2 separate regions of the Homo sapiens genome follow, and region 1 is linked to region 2. The links come from fine-mapping of genetic effects on gene expression. Tissue or cell type: whole blood. Region 2 holds a variant in brackets; the other region holds the start of a gene. All regions are shown on one strand. Distances are between the middles of the regions.

Region 1 (2,500 bases), 28 kb before region 2:
GTTTAAAAAACCTTTGTTTTTTTACACATCTGAGTGGTGTAAATGCTACTCATCTGTAGTAAGTGGAATCTATACACCTGCAGACCAAAAGACGCAAGGTTTCAAAAATCTTTGTGTTTTTTACACATCAAACAGAATGGTACGTTTTTCAAAAGTTAAAAAAAAACAACTCATCCACATATTGCAACTAGCAAAAATGACATTCCCCAGTGTGAAAATCATGCTTGAGAGAATTCTTACATGTAAAGGCAAAATTGCGATGACTTTGCAGGGGACCGTGGGATTCCCGCCCGCAGTGCCGGAGCTGTCCCCTACCAGGGTTTGCAGTGGAGTTTTGAATGCACTTAACAGTGTCTTACGGTAAAAACAAAATTTCATCCACCAATTATGTGTTGAGCGCCCACTGCCTACCAAGCACAAACAAAACCATTCAAAACCACGAAATCGTCTTCACTTTCTCCAGATCCAGCAGCCTCCCCTATTAAGGTTCGCACACGCTATTGCGCCAACGCTCCTCCAGAGCGGGTCTTAAGATAAAAGAACAGGACAAGTTGCCCCGCCCCATTTCGCTAGCCTCGTGAGAAAACGTCATCGCACATAGAAAACAGACAGACGTAACCTACGGTGTCCCGCTAGGAAAGAGAGGTGCGTCAAACAGCGACAAGTTCCGCCCACGTAAAAGATGACGCTTGGTGTGTCAGCCGTCCCTGCTGCCCGGTTGCTTCTCTTTTGGGGGCGGGGTCTAGCAAGAGCAGGTGTGGGTTTAGGAGGTGTGTGTTTTTGTTTTTCCCACCCTCTCTCCCCACTACTTGCTCTCACAGTACTCGCTGAGGGTGAACAAGAAAAGACCTGATAAAGATTAACCAGAAGAAAACAAGGAGGGAAACAACCGCAGCCTGTAGCAAGCTCTGGAACTCAGGAGTCGCGCGCTAGGGGCCGGGGCCGGGGCCGGGGCGTGGTCGGGGCGGGCCCGGGGGCGGGCCCGGGGCGGGGCTGCGGTTGCGGTGCCTGCGCCCGCGGCGGCGGAGGCGCAGGCGGTGGCGAGTGGGTGAGTGAGGAGGCGGCATCCTGGCGGGTGGCTGTTTGGGGTTCGGCTGCCGGGAAGAGGCGCGGGTAGAAGCGGGGGCTCTCCTCAGAGCTCGACGCATTTTTACTTTCCCTCTCATTTCTCTGACCGAAGCTGGGTGTCGGGCTTTCGCCTCTAGCGACTGGTGGAATTGCCTGCATCCGGGCCCCGGGCTTCCCGGCGGCGGCGGCGGCGGCGGCGGCGCAGGGACAAGGGATGGGGATCTGGCCTCTTCCTTGCTTTCCCGCCCTCAGTACCCGAGCTGTCTCCTTCCCGGGGACCCGCTGGGAGCGCTGCCGCTGCGGGCTCGAGAAAAGGGAGCCTCGGGTACTGAGAGGCCTCGCCTGGGGGAAGGCCGGAGGGTGGGCGGCGCGCGGCTTCTGCGGACCAAGTCGGGGTTCGCTAGGAACCCGAGACGGTCCCTGCCGGCGAGGAGATCATGCGGGATGAGATGGGGGTGTGGAGACGCCTGCACAATTTCAGCCCAAGCTTCTAGAGAGTGGTGATGACTTGCATATGAGGGCAGCAATGCAAGTCGGTGTGCTCCCCATTCTGTGGGACATGACCTGGTTGCTTCACAGCTCCGAGATGACACAGACTTGCTTAAAGGAAGTGACTATTGTGACTTGGGCATCACTTGACTGATGGTAATCAGTTGTCTAAAGAAGTGCACAGATTACATGTCCGTGTGCTCATTGGGTCTATCTGGCCGCGTTGAACACCACCAGGCTTTGTATTCAGAAACAGGAGGGAGGTCCTGCACTTTCCCAGGAGGGGTGGCCCTTTCAGATGCAATCGAGATTGTTAGGCTCTGGGAGAGTAGTTGCCTGGTTGTGGCAGTTGGTAAATTTCTATTCAAACAGTTGCCATGCACCAGTTGTTCACAACAAGGGTACGTAATCTGTCTGGCATTACTTCTACTTTTGTACAAAGGATCAAAAAAAAAAAAGATACTGTTAAGATATGATTTTTCTCAGACTTTGGGAAACTTTTAACATAATCTGTGAATATCACAGAAACAAGACTATCATATAGGGGATATTAATAACCTGGAGTCAGAATACTTGAAATACGGTGTCATTTGACACGGGCATTGTTGTCACCACCTCTGCCAAGGCCTGCCACTTTAGGAAAACCCTGAATCAGTTGGAAACTGCTACATGCTGATAGTACATCTGAAACAAGAACGAGAGTAATTACCACATTCCAGATTGTTCACTAAGCCAGCATTTACCTGCTCCAGGAAAAAATTACAAGCACCTTATGAAGTTGATAAAATATTTTGTTTGGCTATGTTGGCACTCCACAATTTGCTTTCAGAGAAACAAAGTAAACCAAGGAGGACTTCTGTTTTTCAAGTCTGCCCTCGGGTTCTATTCTACGTTAATTAGATAGTTCCCAGGAGGACTAGGTTAGCCTACCTATTGTCTGAGA
Region 2 (2,764 bases):
GTTTGACATTTTCACTCCAAGAAAAAGTTTTTTTTTGAAAATAGAATAGTTGGGATGAGAGGTTTCTTTAAAAGAAGACTAACTGATCACATTACTATGATTCTCAAAGAAGAAACCAAAACTTCATATAATACTATAAAGTAAATATAAAATAGTTCCTTCTATAGTATATTTCTATAATGCTACAGTTTAAACAGATCACTCTTATATAATACTATTTTGATTTTGATGTAGAATTGCACAAATTGATATTTCTCCTATGATCTGCAGGGTATAGCTTAAAGTAACAAAAACAGTCAACCACCTCCATTTAACACACAGTAACACTATGGGACTAGTTTTATTACTTCCATTTTACAAATGAGGAAACTAAAGCTTAAAGATGTGTAATACACCGCCCAAGGTCACACAGCTGGTAAAGGTGGATTTCATCCCAGACAGTTACAGTCATTGCCATGGGCACAGCTCCTAACTTAGTAACTCCATGTAACTGGTACTCAGTGTAGCTGAATTGAAAGGAGAGTAAGGAAGCAGGTTTTACAGGTCTACTTGCACTATTCAGAGCCCGAGTGTGAATCCCTGCTGTGCTGCTTGGAGAAGTTACTTAACCTATGCAAGGTTCATTTTGTAAATATTGGAAATGGAGTGATAATACGTACTTCACCAGAGGATTTAATGAGACCTTATACGATCCTTAGTTCAGTACCTGACTAGTGCTTCATAAATGCTTTTTCATCCAATCTGACAATCTCCAGCTTGTAATTGGGGCATTTAGAACATTTAATATGATTATTGGCATGGTAGGTTAAAGCTGTCATCTTGCTGTTTTCTATTTGTTCTTTTTGTTTTCTCCTTACTTTTGGATTTTTTTATTCTACTATGTCTTTTCTATTGTCTTATTAACTATACTCTTTGATTTATTTTAGTGGTTGTTTTAGGGTTATACCTCTTTCTAATTTACCAGTTTATAACCAGTTTATATACTACTTGACATATAGCTTAAGAAACTTACTGTTGTTGTCTTTTTGCTGTTATGGTCTTAACGTTTTTATTTCTACAAACATTATAAACTCCACACTTTATTGTTTTTTAATTTTACTTATACAGTCAATTATCTTTTAAAGATATTTAAATATAAACATTCAAAACACCCCAATTAAAAGTCAGAGATTGTTAATACCACATGATCTCACTTACACACAGAATTGAAAAA[C/T]TTGGAACTCATAGAAGCAGAGAGTAAAAACATGGTTACCAGGTGCTGGGGAGAGGCGGTGGGCTGGGGAGATGTTGGTCAAAGTTAGACAGGAGGAATAAGTTCAAGAGATCTATTGTACAACTTATTCAGTTAGATAGGAGGAATAAGCTAAAGATCAAGAGATCTATTGTACAATGTGACTATAACCAACAACATATATTGTACACTTGAAAATTGCTAACAGTATCTTTTAAGTGTTCTCTCTACAAATAAATATGTGAGGTAATGTATATATTAATTAACTGTAGTCATTTCACAATGTATACTTATTTCAAAACATCATATTGTATGCTATAAATATATACAACTTTTATTTTTCAATTTTAGAAATGTCCTTAAAAAATCAGATTTTCAGATCAGATAAAAAAGCAAGACCCAACTATATGCTGCCAACAGGAAACACACCTTAAAAATAAAGGACGAACAAACAGATTAAAAGTAAAAGGATGGAGAAAAGATACATCATATTGGTAATTAGAAGAAAACTGGAGTGACAATATGAAACAAAATAGATTTCAGAGCAAAGAATATTACCAGGGGTAAAAATGATCATTTTATAATGATAAAAGAGTCAGTTCAGCAAAAGGATATAACAGTCCTAAATGTTTTTTCACCTCATAGCTGTGTCAAAATAGATGAAGCAAAAACTGATAGAACTGTAAGAAGTAGACAAGTCCACAATTATGTTTGGAGATTTTTTTTTTTTTTTTTTTTGTCGCCCAGGCTGGAGTGCAGTGGCAGGATCTCAGCTCACTGCAAGCTCCGCCTCCCAGGTTCACGCCATTCTCCTGCTTCAGCCTCCCCAGTAGCTGGGACTACAGGCGGCCACCACCACGCCTGGCTAATTTTTTTGTATTTTTAGTAGAGACGGGGTTTCACCGTGTTAGCCAGGATGGTCTCGATCTCCTGACCTCGTGATCTGCCTGCCTCGGCCTCCCAAAGTGCTGGGATTACAGGCATGAGCCACTGCACGCAGCCTGGAGATTTTAATATCCTTTCAATGTTTAGTAGAACAAGAATACACAAAATCAGTAAGGATATAGAAGATTAGAACAAGACTATCAAACAATTTGACTTAAATGACATTTGTAGAGCACAGCAGTCCCCAACAACAATAAATCACACATTCTTTCCAAGAGTACATGAAACATGTACCAAGATAGACCGTATTTTGAGCCATGAAACAAATCTTGATAAATTTAAAAGGATTCAAGTCATAGAAAATATGTTCTCTGACCACAATGGAATTAAATTATTAACCAATAACAAATATCTGGGAAAACCTCAAAAACTTGGACACCAGCGCTTTTAAAAGACTAAATAATTTCTAAATTATCTGTGTTGGGGGGAAAAGAGAAATGGATTAGAGAGCAAAAAGGGTATCAGAGTGCTGTGGTACGATTTTTATGAAGAGTGGAACAGAATCTGCCTTTGGCGTTTCCCCACTACAGCCCATTCTTCACATTGATAACAGCATGATCCTTCTAAAATTAAATCTAACGATCACTT

The links. PIP is the estimated chance that this variant, and not a neighbour inherited with it, causes the effect.
Region 1: C9orf72 starts here. The variant in region 2 is fine-mapped to the expression of C9orf72 in whole blood (INTERVAL, PIP above 0.99). The same link has a PIP of 0.9 or more in Th1 cells.

The regions. Positions count from the first base shown.
Region 1 is chr9:27,571,979-27,574,478 of GRCh38, reverse strand. C9orf72 (C9orf72-SMCR8 complex subunit) reads left to right here and starts at 998. Exons shown (of 11, transcript NM_018325.5): 1 at 998-1,048. RefSeq lists enhancers at 389-916, 1,515-1,604 and a silencer at 925-1,004.
Region 2 is chr9:27,543,395-27,546,158 of GRCh38, reverse strand. No RefSeq gene overlaps it. Among named protein-coding and RNA genes, the nearest start is that of MOB3B, 15 kb to the right of the region's middle. The variant C/T (reference allele first, on the strand shown) is at 1,214.